2 separate regions of the Homo sapiens genome follow, and region 2 is linked to region 1. The links come from fine-mapping of genetic effects on gene expression. A gene starts in region 1. The other region holds a variant in brackets. All regions are shown on one strand. Distances are between the middles of the regions. Region 1 holds the start of DNAJC19 (DnaJ heat shock protein family (Hsp40) member C19). Region 2 overlaps SOX2-OT (SOX2 overlapping transcript).

What was found. PIP is the estimated chance that this variant, and not a neighbour inherited with it, causes the effect.
Region 2: its variant is fine-mapped to the expression of DNAJC19 in testis (GTEx, PIP above 0.99). The same link has a PIP of 0.9 or more in esophagus mucosa, fibroblasts and transverse colon.

Annotation. Positions count from the first base shown.
Region 1 is chr3:180,985,763-180,994,109 of GRCh38, reverse strand. DNAJC19 (DnaJ heat shock protein family (Hsp40) member C19) reads left to right here and starts at 4,374. Exons shown (of 6, transcript NM_145261.4): 1 at 4,374-4,510; 2 at 5,881-5,932; 3 at 6,014-6,087; 4 at 7,088-7,167; 5 at 8,114-8,184. The coding sequence starts at 4,508.
Region 2 is chr3:181,402,105-181,410,451 of GRCh38, reverse strand. All of the region lies in intron 3 of SOX2-OT (SOX2 overlapping transcript), which reads right to left. Among named protein-coding and RNA genes, the nearest start is that of SOX2, 310 kb to the left of the region's middle. The variant T/C (reference allele first, on the strand shown) is at 4,364.

The DNA.
Region 1 (8,347 bases):
ATGAATATGATCTCCGATAGTCAATTCTCAATTCTTTATTATTTGACTACTAGCAACATTTGTTTGTTTGCTTGTTTTGCTTTTTGGTTTCCAAAGGCTCTCCCTCAGAAGAATATTAGCAGCATTTGACACAGTTAATCACTCCTTCCTCCATTGAACACTTTCTTCACTTGGCTACCAAGACACCACACTTACCTGGTTTATGCCTACCCTTTTTCAGTCTATTAAATAATTTTCTCTTTTTTTCCTCATGTCCCCAGATTCCAAACACAGGTGTATCCCAAAACACAGTTCTTATTCCTCTTCTTTCTGTCTCCACTCATGCAAAGATGACTTTACCTGTTCCATGGGCTGATGACTCCCAAACCTCTCTTTTGACACCAGAGTTGTATGTCCAACTGCCTATTGGACAGCACTACTTGGATATCTCATTGGCATTTCAAACTTAACATGGCAAAAGCCTTCCACTTCCTGCTTGCTCTTCCTGAAGTTTTTCTAGTTCCATTCAGCGGCAAATCCATCCTTCCAGCTGCTAAAGCCTCAAGCTTTGGAGTCACTCTTGACTTTTCTTTCTCTCACACACTATACCTCATCCATCAGCAAATTTTTTCAGCTATACCTTAAATATATAAGCAGGAGTCCAGCCACTTCACTCTACCACCACTGCTACTATCATTTTTCATTTGAATTATTGCAACGGCCTCTTATTAAAGTCATCATCAAACTGGGCTCAGTGGCTCATGCCTGTAGTCCCAGTAACTTGGGAAGCTAAGAAGGGAGGATCACTTGATGCCAGGAGTTAGAGGCTGCAGTGAGCCATGATCATGCCACTGCACTTCAGCCTGGGGAACAGAGCAAGACTTTGACTCAAAAAAAAAAAATAGCATAAAAATAATAGTCACTATTCATGTTGGAAACAGATGGTACACTGCCTTAGTCTGGGCCGCTATAACAAAATACCATAAACTGGCAGCTTATAAAAACAGAAATTTGTTTCTCAGCGTTCTGGAAAGCTGGGAAGTTTGAGTGAGGTCCTAACTGATTTGGTGTCTGATGAGGGCCCATTTCTTCATAGACAGCCATCTTTTCACCCTTAAGTCCAAGACAAAGGCAGCATGTGTGTCTGGTAAGGGCCCTTTCTGTTTCACAGACAGTTCCTTCTCACTGTGTTCTCACAGGGTGGAAGGGGTGAGGGTCTCTCTCGTGCCTCTTTATGAAGGCGCTAATCTGATTCACAAGGGCTCTACCATTATGATCTAATCACTTCCCAAAGGCCCCATCTCCTTATACCATCGCATTGGTTATTAGCTTTGAACATATTAATTTGGGGGAAGACAAACATTCACACCACGGCCAAATGGAGAGTTTAATAAGAGGACTGTTTACAAAGATGTGGACAGGATTAAGGGAAACTGGCACAAAATGTTCCAGTGCCCTGTGCCTAGCAAGCAGGGGCCAGTAGCAAAGGCATGACTATACTTAAATGTGAAGGAGCAACAGGAAGGAGTAATGACCAGAACACTTGCACACAACAGGAGCTGTATTCTTCAGCAGACCAATTCAGTCAGCTTACAACAATCACCAGAAAGTGAGAGGTAGAAATAAAAACCATGAATTCACTTTCCTCCTGCCTTCTGATCTCCTGATCACAGACCTAAATGAACCCTAAGCCAGAAAACGAGAGAGCTGCTCATGGATACAGTTCATTAAGGTCACCCTCCTAACCTTTCTGTTCCTCTGGAGCACAGAGCAGGAAAAAAAGGTAGAGAGAGGATCTGGGGAAAAGCAAAATACATCCAGCAATATAGCAAAGCAATATAGCAATATAGTGAAGTAAATGTTACTTTCACAGGGTGAAATGAAACAATCTATGTAAAGCATTTAGTACAATGTCTGGCGTATGGCTTTTAGTTGGTGGGGGAACCCCTTATTTGCCTGGCATTATAGTTCCAAGTGTGGATTTTTGCAGTGATAATTTCCAAACTTTAGGTGATGATCAATTAGTGGGCTGTGAGTTTAGTAGGTTTTCTAGCACTTATTTTTTTAAGAAACAGAAAAGACCAGCATGCATTTCATGAAGTAAGGATAAGTATTATCTCATAAATAAATCTACTATGTATATCTGTGCGTGCAAGTATGTATTTGCTCCTTGGGTCACAGTGTAAAATATATTTCTTACTAAGGATGACAGTCAAAAAATGTTTGAAAGCCACAGTGCAAGAACACTCTTAGCTACCGCTCTCAACTCTCACTTATTTCTTCCCAAGGAGAAGTGACTTACCTGATTTAAAAATTTGGGATGAGAAACTAAGAAGATGTGCTTGAGTCCTTTCTCATTCTTTTGTCCCTACCCCCTCTTTTGTCTTTTATTACTTTCTATAGTAAACTAAATAATGTGTTCCAAAGATTTCAGGTCCTAATACTTGGAACCTGTGAATGTTACCTTATATGGCAAAGTGTTGGAAACTATGATTAAGTTAAGGATCTTAAGAAGGGGAGATTATCCTGGATTATCTGGGTAGCTGGTAAATGCAATTACATATATCCTTTAAGAGGAAACCAGAAGGAGATTTTACAAACAGAAGAGAAGGACAATGTGAAGATGGAAAAGTTGGAGCAGAGTGAGATTTCAAGATGCTGGCTTACAAGACTGCAGTGATTCAGTCACAAGTCAAGGAATGCTGGCAGTCACCAGAAGCTAGAAGAAATGAGGAATGATTATCCATTCATCAGTCAGTGGACATTTAAAAAGATTACTTTTCAAGGCTGTTTCTAGGATCTTGGCAGGTAGGTAAGAGGCAACCAGACTTAAGATTCATGAGTGAGGTATCATGAGAATGAGGAAGGCTTCTACACTCCAATTTGCACTCTGGCTTCCCTCATAATAATAGCCCCACACTGAGTGATGACCATAAGCAGAACACAATATGTGCATAATCTCTACGTTCACAAAAACTCGGCAAGGTAGTTATCATTACCTTCATTTTACAAATGAGGAAGAAACTCAATCAGAAATAACTTTTCCAAGTCACAGTATTAGTAAGTGACAGAGCCAGGTTACCTCCAGTTTGATCTGCCACCAAAAAAAGAGCTATCTCCAGCTCAACAAAATGTCTTGCTGTGTTGCTACTCCCAATTTCCTGAGTCTGGGTTTTGTAAAGTCTCAAAGCTAATTAGAGTCTACTGTAAATCTATTCCTCCAGAAACTGCATTACACAGTTTGTACATACCAAAAATATGCATAATAAATTTTTCCAGATAGCATTCTAGCTTGTTGATGCCAATTTGGTCCCAAGGTCTTATGCCTCACTTGATTATTTATTTTGTAATTGTTGGGTAAAAACCAGATAAAAGAGAGGCAAAAGAGGAAGTTATAAACTTAATGCTAGTGTCTTAGTGCTGGATGTCACCTTAAATCATGTGTTGACAATAAATTACATCACAAAAACCTTAGCGCTAGAAGAGCTCTTGGATTATCAAATGCAAACTGCTTTTACAGATGAGGAAAACAAACCCAAAAATTTTGCATATTTGTTTAATAACTAACAAACTCATCAAAGCAGAATTGCATTGCAATGTAAACGGATATTTAACACTGTAAATTCTGAGTGGGAAGTAACTCCAAACTTATTTTGATCATGCAAACGTTGCATTGTAAAATTCCATTATTGTCTCCATTATTTTTTTCTTCTCAAGCATTTATGTAGGGATGTATGAAACTGATGTCCACGTAAGGGCAAAATCCAGCCCTACTTTTTATTTTGGGTGAGGAGGAAAACTTTTAAATAGCCCTTTTCAGTTGTAGGATCTTGACATTCCATGTTCAGAATATGAACTGTCTTTAATCCCATTCTACAAAACGAAAACCCAAATATTCACAAAGTCTTGTCAAGTCACATCCTTAAATGAAGTTCTTTTACATTAAAAAATGCTACCGAGCAATCCCTGAAACACAGTGTGGTTGGTTTCATTTGTTTTTCTGGGCATCTCGTTTCCTACACTGGGTTACAACATATTTGTTTGGGTTCGTGGTGGAAATGTCACAGCATGTTTAACTACATTCATTACCCTTGACAATTATTAACATAAAATAAAGGCAAAACGAGGTGCTAAGATGTAGGGGGAAAAAATCGGTCTGAGTAAGGCTGCCCATGCCCTTCCCTGCAAGAATTTCCAAATACCCACCGCCCAGGAGCAAAGGACAGAAAACACAGAGAAGCCCCACCCCTACACCCAGAAATAAAGAGATCCGCCCACCCTTCAACCAACCCGAAGTCGCTTTCTCCGCTCTGTCCACTGCTTGAGCGACTTTCCTTCTCCTCCGCGTCCCCTTTTACGACAGTTTTCCGGCCTAGTTTGCGGCTGCTCCTGCCGTGTTGCGTAGGGCGCCTGTGCTTGAGGTTGGGGGTTGCGTCGCTCTCTGGTAAAGGCGTGCAGGTGTTGGCCGCGGCCTCTGAGCTGGGATGAGCCGTGCTCCCGGTGGAAGCAAGGGAGCCCAGCCGGAGCCATGGTGAGTGCGGCCTTCCGGTCTTCTTGGCGACCTCCGGCCCAGGCCTCAACCTCAGCTCCCCGCCTCGGAGGTGTGGAGTTGAAGTTGTGCTCCTTAGTGCGACTGCGGGCGGGAGGTTTCGGTTATTGGGGAGTCACACTCACCAGGACACAACCCTGTTGGCTCGCTCTCTTGGGGGTTTGTGTTTTTACATCGTCTTTCTGCACGGTTCTCCAGCTTCTTGTCCGCACGGGCTCTGCAGGTGTTGCTTGCCTGGAACTCCTGTAAGGTCAGAGGCTGTCATGGACTCGGAGATTAGTGGAAACGTATTTGATTATAAGTGCCCTTGCCCTAACACATCTTCACAGCACTAGCTCCACTTTGCTATGTCCTTCTCTTTGGCTTTTGCTGACAGATGTCTTCTCCATGCTTCCTGAACATATTTGGGCCTGTCTTGTTAGGAAACAACAGGGCAGTGCCAAAGGTATTAGTCTCCTAGTTTAGCCCACGTTTAGCCTCGAAAATGCGTTGTTAGAATTTTACAGGAGCCGTCTGTAAACAGTTTTTCCTTCTGTAGCAGAAACCTTATTTCCACATTTTTTTTTTTTTTTTTGAGACAGAGTCTTGCTCGGTCGCCTAGGCTGGAGTGCAGTGGCACAATCTTGGCTCACTACAAGCTCCGCCTCCCGGGTTCGCCATTCTCCTGCCTCAGCCTCCCAAGTAGCTGGGATTACAGGCGCCCACCACCACGCCCAGCTAATTTTTTTTTTTTTTGTATTTTTAGTAGAGACGGGGTTTCACCATGGTAGCCAGGATGGTCTCGATCTCCCGACCTAGTGATACGCCCGCCTCGCCTCCCAAAATGCTGGAATTACAGGCGTGAGCCACCGCGCCTGGCCTATTTCCACTACTTTTGATTGAACTTTAATGTGACTTAATTTGTCTGGTGATGAAAGAAGTTTTCAAAGGGAGGGAATCATCTTTTTCACTATTGTAAAGATAAATAAGCAAGTCGAACTTGCCCTCTTTCCCATATGATGAATCCTGTAACTTTAATGCATTCAGCATAACAGATGCAGTAGTTTTAAAGATTACTGGACAGAATATTTCCGCCTTAAAAGTTGTTTCTCTGCCAGGCATGGTGGCTTATGCCTATAATCTTAGCACTTTGGGAGGCCAAGGTGGGAGGATTGCTTGAGGCCAGGAGTTCAAGACCAGCCTAAGCAACATAGCAAGACTCCGTCTCTTAAAAAAAAAAAAAAAAAAAGAAAAAAAAAAGTTGTTTCTCCTATTAAAATGCAGTTTGTAATGAGTTGGGGATGGAAGAATGGGCAAAATGAGAAAGGGTGGGAATTAGAGAAGTAAATATTTACTCTTCTCCCCCTTACCAGGCCAGTACAGTGGTAGCAGTTGGACTGACCATTGCTGCTGCAGGATTTGCAGGTTTGTTTATGGTTTGGGGATGGAAGTGAAGTCGGGGAGATTGGAGATTTAGTTTACTTATTCTGTTGCTTTTGGTTTTAGGCCGTTACGTTTTGCAAGCCATGAAGCATATGGAGCCTCAAGTAAAACAAGTTTTTCAAAGCCTACCAAAATCTGTAAGACTTTGTTAATTCTTTGCTGCTTCTATTTGAAACCTAGAGCCACACTTAGGGAAGGGTAAATTTCCAAATATCCATGAAGTTCTAAGTGATTGCTTTGGACCCATTCTCCTGCTTCCTGCAAGGAGAGTATAGAAGTTCTGAACTTTGTGATGGTGCTACCCTGAAACATCAGATGTTATATGTGACAGAGTTGGATGGGGTTTTGACAATTCTAGTACCCCACTAGACCCAAGTTTCACTTTTTCACATACCATCACCTTCAGCATCATCTGTACATATTCTTGTTTTCCTTCATCTGCTCTGCATCGCACACACAGAGGTATATGATTCTAAAGTGATCCGATCTGACCATGTGGCCCTGGCACTCCCAAACATCATACATAGGTAGCACTCTAGTTAATTAGGCTATAGGGTTTGGCTTGATGTTATGGTCATACTCTCTGTGGTCACAGTTAAGAATAGATTTGGCTGTGATCACCTGTTGAATATGTTGTGATTAAGTGTAACAGAATAGAGTGATTGTAGGCTTTACCAATATGATTTCTGACATGGCAAGGTCAGAGGACCTAATAGTGGTATTTTCTGTATATATATCTTAAAGTCTTGTTTCAAATACACTTGAACCTCTTGTCTCAAAAGACTTCTGTTCTTGAGCCACTTCTTGCAGATTTTTATCTAGAATATGGCTAATTTGGAATGATCTTTCCTTTACTCCCGGAAGACCTGGCTTTCAGACACTGTTATTTTGTCTTATATTTCTAAGATAGTTCATATTGACTGGAAAAAAATGAATCTGTTTAATGATCATTAAAATACTACTTGTTGCTACTTATTTATAAACTTTATTCAGCTTTAGCTAAAATACCTCGGGAATTGCACTAAAAGTCCTCTGAAATGTCTTAGTTTTTCTTAGTTCTGTGAATATTTCCAGACGTCTTTTTTAAAGCAACTTTATTTTATTAACCTTTCTTTACAAATGCATTTCTTCTTTCAGGCCTTCAGTGGTGGCTATTATAGAGGTGGGTTTGAACCCAAAATGACAAAACGGGAAGCAGCATTAATACTAGGTGTAAGGTAAAATAATCTCTAATATTTTTAGCATTTTTCTACCACTGTAGAGCCATGAGGAAATATAAGAAAGACCTTCTCTCCTTTAATAGGAGAGGGTCATGGGGGATTTTGTCCTAGGAAGATTGATATTACCAATTCTAATCAATGAAACTGTACTGTTCCTTCATGTTATTTTTAAGATGTAAACAATCCTTCAAATGAGAAGGCACACTAGCACTTAAGCACTTTTTCTTTTTTCCTAGAGTGTTTACTAAAACACAGGCACTTTTTCATTTATTTAAAGATAGACTCCTCAGCAGATTATCACAGTGTTCAGTGTTGTTCTCTGTAACTGACATTTTTTTTGTGGTGAAATTCTGCCTTCAACCGGGCGCGGTGACTCACGTCTGTAATCCCAGCACTTTGGGAGGCCAAGGCCAGTGGATTACTTGAGGTCAGGAGTTCAAGACCAGCCTGGCAAACATGGTGAAACCCCGTCTCTACTTAAAATACAAAAATTAGCCAGGCGTAATGGCACACACCTGTAATCCCAGCTACTCGGAAGGCTGAGGCAGGAGAATCGCTTGAACCCGGGAGGCCGAGGTTGCAGTGAACCAAGATCAAGCCACTGCACTCCAGCCTAGGGGACAGAGTGAGACTATCTCAAAAAAAAAAAAAAACAAAACTCTTCCTTCTTCATTTTCAAATCCTTAAACATGCGTTTCTTATCAATAAAAGGACTGTTGTAATGGGTACTGCAAGTTCAACACATTTTTGAGAGTGCCTTACTTTTCTAAGTAGTTTCCCAATTTAGGATACGCATTGGGTGTGTTGAGGTTTCTAAACAGCTTTTCATACTGTTGTGTTAATTTACTACAGTTTCACAGTGTCTTTAATTGGCCTTTATGTACAGTTTTTTGATGTGATGCAGAAGTAGGATGAAGTAAATACCATTTCTTTTTTTAATTAGCCCTACTGCCAATAAAGGGAAAATAAGAGATGCTCATCGACGAATTATGCTTTTAAATCATCCTGACAAAGGTAAGTAGTCATTAAATTCTCGTTGATGTTGTTGGTGTGACCAATAGTTATTAATGGGATAATTTTATCTCAAATTCCTGGCTATTAGAAAGGTAACACTTAAATCTGTAAGTCCTGTCTCCTAGGCTGGAGCCATATATTTTTGGTGTCTTAAAAGAAATTA
Region 2 (8,347 bases), 420 kb before region 1:
GCCTGGTCTGTATGTGAGTGTGTGCTTTGCATGTGGGTTACTGAAGCATGCACTGCAAAATATAGCTCCAAAACTTGTGAAGGAGTAGCACTTCCATGATCCCTTCAGAGGAAAGTGCAGGATTTGACCTATGGGTCAATTACCAGCCAAAAAACACTCTGTGTTATCTAATAGGTAACACATAATGACACTTATCCAAAAAATCTGTAGATTTCTTTTTGTTGAGTGGAAACATGTTGTATTTATTAAAGTAAGACTTTTGTTTTTTTATTAAAACTAATTTTTACTTTATGATAATATGTCACATTGTTTAGCCTCCATTCCTGTGAGCGCAGAAAAAGGTAAAAAACATACTTTTCATTACAAACTATAACTAAAAGATAAATCTGTCTGACCACTTTTACAATTTTTGCTTATACGCCACTATGCTCAATATTTTTTCCTTAAGAATCAATGATCCAGTTGAGTCTTGATTTCAACTTAAGGCCATCCATTAGAGAGAGTTAAGAGCCTGAAAAGGGTCAGCCTTTTCTGTCTCTATTAGTCTAGGTAGCTTTCGTCTCTAATGGAATCCTTTCGATAATTATTTCATACTTCTGGCAAATCTTGATGGACTCCATTCACCTCAATGCTACCTCTGCAGATCATTCAAAAGCTTCTATTAGGACATCTTAGAGAAACCTCCTTTTTGCTTTATACTCAAATAAAAGAAGTAAAAAACTAAACTTCAAGAGGGGCCATGCTTTTCAGTGTAATCACAATACTTTCCAGTCTGAACAAGAGGCATCAGCTATTCTTTCCCTTTTGAAAGCATTTTGACCAGGTGGAAGGATTTTAAGCATATATACCAGAACACACATATCTTGGTCCAATTCAAGAGCCATAGAAAATATCTTCATACTTATTTGCATATGTTTTTTTTCACTATTAATGTTTAGGAAATATGAGCTTCGTCTCTTTATCAATGACAGTACTTTTCAATGGAAGAAAAAATGATCAATAACTGTAACAATATATTATGACTAATTTGCTAAAATTGATTTTTTAAAAATCAAGTTACAATCTGGGATACCTACTTATTTTTGGAATGTATCACATACCTCCTTTAAAATAGAGCTCCTTCCTAATTGTATTTTGCTTAGTTACTTATAAACATCAGCTTTAATTCCCTAAGCAAAAAACAGCTGGATGATAGGTGAAAGCTGGTTGAAGATTAAGAATTTGCTGTAGGCTTTACACAGAGCAGCTAATAGTCACTTGAAGAATCAAGTGCTGAACGTATTAAGTGATTCTGCCTGCCATTTCTTTATTAGATCTACTTTAAATGGAACTCTGTGGGCCCGCTTGAAGCAGAGTGGGCTCTCTTAAACTCTGAAAAATCTATCTGCTGCAGAAACAGGGAAGGGTCCTCTTTTGGTGCCTAGTCATGGTGGAGAATACGGGAATCCATCAACACTTGCTCGGTACCCTCCATCCCAACACCTTCTACAAGATATTTAACGTGGCTTCCAAGCATATATGTAATGTGAGAGGTACAGCATCTATGGTAGTTAATCACTACCATTTTGAATATTTAGGTTGTTTTTGAATTTTTGCTAACATAAGTCACCTTATAATGAACATCCTTGTAGCTTAATCCTTAAATGTATTAATGGTCAAATATATTAATGGTACATTTAAGGGTTAAGAAAGGTAAGGCACAGGAAGAATAAAGATTGAACAGTAATAAGGCCAAGGGTGAGCTGCACGCACAGGAAAGCATAACCTAGTATACCAGAGTCAACAGGGGTGCTGCTTCGTGCCACAAGCTAAGGAGGAAGCATGGTCAGGTACAAGATTCATAATATCCATAAGGTTAAGGGGAAAAAGGAGAGCCTCTTTAATAAAGTGCCTACTGTGTAACAAATACTGCTATATGAGCAACTGAGAGACATCAAATTAAAATTATTTATACATAGTTGAAGTACACATATTGTTTTATAGACTTCTAAAACTTTAAAATAATCATAAACTATAAGGAATTGCAAATATATCTGTGTGCAGATGAGTGGATTAAAAATAATAAAAAATAAAAAGAAATTGCAAAAATAGTACAAAGAGTCCAATATATCCTTCACCCTGCTTCCCCAATTGGCTACATTTTATTTTATTTTATTTTTATTTCGAGACAGAGTCTTGCTCTGTCCCCCATGCTGGAGTGCAGTGGCACTGATCTCAGCTCACCGTAACCTCCACCTCCTGGGTTCAAGCTATTCTTGTGCCTCTGCCTCCCAAGTAACTGGGATTACAGGCACGCACCACCAGGCCCAGCTAATTTTTGTATTTTTAGTAGAGACAGGGTTTCGCCACGTTGGCCAGACTGGTCTTGAACTCCTGACCTCAATTGAGCCAGCTGCCTCAGCCTCCCAAAGTGCTGGGATTACAGGCATGAGCCACCGCCAGGCTGGCTACATTTTATGTAAATGTAGTACAGTATCAAAAGCAGAAAACTGACATTTGCACAGTACCTTTAACTACATTACAGGCTTTGTTCAGAATTCACAGCGTTTACCTCTGTGTATGTGTTTGTCTCTGTGTAGTTTCATGCAATTTTTTTTATTATAGTTTAAGTTCTGGGATACATGTGCAGAACGTGCAGGTTTGTAACATAGGTATACATGTGTCATGGTGGTTTGCTGCACCCATCAACCTGTTATCTACATTAGGTATTTCTTCTAATGCTATCCCTCCCCTAGCCCCCCACTCCCAACAGGCCCCAGTGTGTGATGTTCCCCTCCCTGTGTCCATGTGTTCTCATTGTTCAACTCCCACTTATGAGTGAGAACATGCAGTGTTTGGTTTTCTGTTCCTGTGTGAGTTTGCTGAGAATGGTGGTTTCCAGCTTCATCCATGTCCCTGCAAAGGACATGAACTCCTCCTTTTTTATGGCTGTATAGTATTCAATGGTGTGTATGTGCCACATTTTCTTTAACCAGTATATCATTGATGGGCATTTGGGTTGGTTCCAAGTTTTTGCTTTTGTGAATAGTGCTGCAATACCCCATCAAAAAGCGGGTGAAGGATATGAACAGACACTTCTCAAACGAAAACATTTATTCAGCCAACAAACATATGAAAAAAAAAGCTCATCATCACTTGTCATTAGAGAAATACAATTTTATATATATATATGTAACCACTACATATATGTATACATAAGATATATGTATATATAAATATATATTTTTATATATATGTATATATTTATATGTGTATATATACATATACACATATATATACATACATATATATGTATATACACACATATATACATACTTATATATGTATATACACACATATATACATACTTATATATGTATATACACACATATATACATACATATGTATGTATATACACATATATACATACATATATATGTATATACACATATATACATACATATATATGTATATACACATATATACATACATATATATGTATATACACATATGTATGTATATATGCGCGTATATACATATATATTGTTATTTATATATGCATATATATAAATAACAATATATATAAATATACATTTATATATATATATATATATATATATATATATATGTAACCACTACAATGATGAAAATACCCAGCTATTATATCACCACCAAGCCCTTGGTGTTATCTCTTTATAGTCACACTCATTTCCCTTCCTTCTTCTGCCGCATCTTTAAATCCCGGCAATCATTCATCTGCTTTCCATCTCTGTAATGCTGTCATTGTGTGAATGTTATATAGGTGGAATCATGCATGTGTAACCTTTTTAGACTGGCTTTTTCACTCACTATAATTCCCTTGAGATCCATCTAAATTGCTGTATCAGTAGTTCATTCCTTTAATTGCTGAAGAGTATTTCATGGTACAGACAGATCACAGTTTGTTTAACCATTCATTGCCAAAGGATATTTGGATTGTTTCCAGTTTTTAACTATTACAAACAAAATTGTTATGAACAACCACGTACAGGTTTTTGGGTGGACACAAGTTTGTTTGTCTGTTTTTTGAAACAGGGTCTTGCTCCAGGATATAAGTTGTTATTTCTCTGGGATAAATGCCTAGGAATGCAATTGCTAGATTGTATGGTAAGTGCATATCAAAAGTTTTCATTATTAAGAAACTGCCAAGCTGTTTTCCAGAGTGACTGTACCATTTTTTAACTTCCAACAGCAATGTATGAGTGGTTCAGTGTCTCCCTGTCCTTGCCAACATTGCTACTATTATCAGTTTTTATTTTAGCTATACTGATAGGTTTACAGTAACATCTCATTATGGCTTTGTATTTCCTAATGGCCAATAATGTTGAACATCTTTTTGTGTATT[T/C]ATTTACCATCTCCATCTCCTCTTTAATAAAACGTCTATTCATGTGTTTTGCCCATTTTCTAATTAGATTTTTGTTTTTATAATTTTTTATGTCTTGCTGAGTTTTGAGAATTCTTTACTCTAGATTCAATTCCTTTGTCAGATATGTGGTTGGCACTTTTTCCCAGCCTGTAGTTTGTCTTTTTATTCTCCTCTCAGAGACTTTTGTAGAGCATGAAGTTTTAATTTTGACACAGCCCAAAATGTCAGTTTTTCTTCTCTTCTCCATACAATTTCATATATAAGAAATCTTCAGTCATATATAAAGACTCTTGACTCTGTCACTAGGCCCAAAAGATTTTCTTCTACATGTTTTCTAGTTTTATGTCTTACATTTAAATCTATGATCCATTATGAAGTAATTATTATATAAAATAATTTTACACAATAATTTTAACTTTATTATTAAATAATTTTAACTATTTATTTTATTCTTTGCCTATGGATGCCCAATTGCTGCAGCATCATATGTTGAAAAGACTATTCTTTCATTAAATTGCTTTTGCGCCTTTGTAAAAAAAAATCCGTTGGACATATTTATGTGGGCCTATTTATGGTTTTTCTATTCTTTCATATGATTTTTGCTCAATTAAAAAATACCGTAAACTTGTTTCCACCAACAATTTCAATATAATTTTAGCTAGTGCAAAGCATGTCACGGGTTGGACATAATCATGATGTAGTTAACCACTACTATTTTGAATATTTAGGTTATTTTTTAATTTTTGCTAACATAAGTCACCTTATAATGAACATCCTTGTAGCTTAATCTTTGAATATATTAATGATAATTTCTTGGGATTTCTAGAAGTAAACTTGCATAAAGAGTGTACAGCTTTTTAGAAAATGAGCTATTTTGGACAATAGTTAGGGGTCAGCCTACTTTTTAAATGTGGGGATTTTTCATTTTTCTTTTGAGACAGAGTGTCACACTGTCACCCAGGCTGGAGTGCAGTGGCATGATCTTGGCTCACTGCAAACTCCACCTCCCAGGTTGAAGCTATTCTCCTGCCTCAGCCTCCCAAATAGCTGGGATTACAGGTGCATGCCACCACACCTGGCTAATTTTTGTATTTTTAGTAGACACAAGGTTTCATCATATTGGCTAGGCTGGTCTCGAACTTCTGAACTCAGGTGATCCACCCTCCTCCGCCACCCAAAGTGCTGGGATTACAGGTGTGAGCCACCACACCCGGCCTAAAATGTGTTTTTAAAAACATCTGTATATAAAATGAACTTAGGTGTAAAGGGAAAATAGATGAATAAAGTACTATAGCCAGAAAGCTACTCATTGCTATAGATGTAAGATTGTTTTTCACATCTGTTAAAAATCAATGAATAAGTCAGATTTCTCAGAGCAGTCTGCTGCAGGGTAAAGGGGAGTTTCTACCACCCCTGCAACATACTATAATGTAATTGCTTAAATGCCCAGATACTCCATAGAGAAAGCTGAATAAATGTGCTTCAGGAAGTTGAACTTGAAAGTAGATTAGTGTTCATTATCTACAGTCAATATTTTTATTCAAGAACATTTAACTAGCCTAGCACAGGGCACATGCCCAATATTAATAGAAGACAGGGTGTGGTAAGTCCTACGAGTGAGTCAGAGTTCAACAGGAAAAGAAGAGAGAGAAAGATGAATCTTGACTTTGTACATGTAGAAAAGTCTCTTGAGAATAGAGTATCTGTGTGGGGCCTGAATGTGGCTCAGGCAGACAGAATATGGGAAATGCATTCTAGAAAGAGACAAAGATGTGGCAGCTGAGAAGTGAGCACACGGCTGTGTTGCTCCACGAATGTGCACGTACTGGGAGGGAAAGAGAGATGTTTGGAGATAGTTTTGGAAAGACGGGCTTGAGAAAAGACGTGCCTCAAGCAGGAAACCGGAATGTCAAGTAGAAGCAGTAACTTTTATTCAAATAAGAAAGCTCTTGAAGTTTTGACATAGGAACAGGTGACCAGAGCTGCTCTTAAAAAAGACAAAATTCTGGCTACAGTGTTTGAACAGCCTGGACTGGGAGAAAGACCAGAGGCTGCAAGTCTGCTGAGGAAGCAACTGCCTAAGTTTAGGGAGAAGATATCCAGCTCCAAACTCTGACAGGGGATGTGCGGGCAGATTAATGCTTGTGAGCCTATATTTCTAGAGGCAGGTGCATCATTGCTTGAAACACATTTTTTTGTTCCCCCATGATTTGGAGAGGTAAAAGGGAAAGCTGGAGTCTGTGATGGTCAAGAGAAAGGACTCTAGTTCCAAAATGCCTGGTCCCTGGTCCAGGAACCTGTATCTGCTGGCTGTATAACCCCTAGTAAGTGACTTTATCCTTCCTGTGTCTTGGTATCCTCAATTGTAGAAAGGGGATGATAGTATTCATTTCATTGTGTTGTTGGGGGGATTAAATAAATCTATGGATGTCAAGTGTGCCAAGTGTGTAGAACAGTATGTGGCACATGTTGTTCACCATTACTCTTTTTGTGATTATTTTTGAGCTATTTCGGGAGAAGAGGTTTGTGGTCATATTTGCCTGACAAGGGGAAGAAAGGATGGAGTTAGAAGAGCAGAGGAAGAGGAATATCTAACAACGATGCTTCTTCCCTTCCAATGTGCACGCATATCACCTGGGTATTATGTTAACATGCAGACTCTGATTCAGTAGGTCTGGGGTAAGAACTGAGTTTGTGCATTTCTAACAAGGTCCCAGCTGATGTGCAAGAATCTGAGAGCTCCTTCACTACCTTACTTACCTCTCCTACCCTCTCCCCTCCAGGCTCATTTTGAACCCTGGATATTAGGAGGATTGCAGCCCTTATTGTCCTAACATTGCATTCAAGGAAACTTCTCCTTTTGCAACAATCATTATAAAATGATTCTTACTGTATATTACAGGCCCTTTACATTCTTTATCTCAAGTCCTCATAACAAGCCTTGGGCCAGGCGTGGTGGCTCATGCCTGTAATCTCAGCACTTTTGCGATCACTTGAGGTCAGGAGTTTGAGACCAGCCTGGCCAACATGGTGAAACCCCGTCTCTACTAAAAATACAGGAAAAAACAAAAAATTAGCCAGGCTTGGTGGTGCACGCCTGTAATCCCAGCTACGTGGCAGGCTGAGGCAGAAGAATCGCTTGAACACGGGAGACAGAGGTTGCAGTGAGCCGAGATCATGCCACTGCACTCCAGCCTGAGTGACAGGGCGACACTCTGTCAAAAAAAAAAAAAAAAAAAAGCCTTGTAAGGGTAAGATGCTATAAGCCTCATTTTACTGATGAAGAAACTTGGAGAGGTAAAGTAACACTCTCAAGGCTAAATAGCTCACAAGTGGCAAAGCCAGAATTTAAACCCAGGATTTTCTCATATGCTATGCTAGTTCCCAGGTGATGTGCCTTCCATAAAGACTCCAGAGAGGGCACACTGAGAAGCAGAAGTGGGAGAGGAAAGAGTGGAGGGTGTGTGTCCTGCCTCCGGCCGTGAAGTTACTCCTGCTCTATCCTGGCTGTTTATGGAGATCTCTTGTAGGCCTATAAATCCGAAGTTCCCAGGATTTACTGCTAGCCACACCCATCTCCCCACAGAGTCCTGTTTAGCCAGATCTTGGTTATTCTGAAGCAGGATCTTTTTTGGTAAGGTATTTCCCAAGAGTTTTAGATCATTTTTCAGAACACTTTATAAAAAATGGAAAGAGTTATGGTTATTAATTAAGAGAACTAAAATTGTAAATCTAGGAAGGTGTAAGATGGCAAGGCTGAAATACATATACATTTCTATTTTATCTGCTATATAAGGTATAGCAGGTATAAGCAAGGAATATAAGGTATAGCAGGTATAAGGTATAAAAACAATACCTTTTCCTCAGATCTTAGCTTTGGGAACAAGAAGTAGTTCACACATGCATTACCGTGTGGAGGGCTGATGAAGCAGAGGGAATCCTTCCCTCTTAGGGCCACATGAT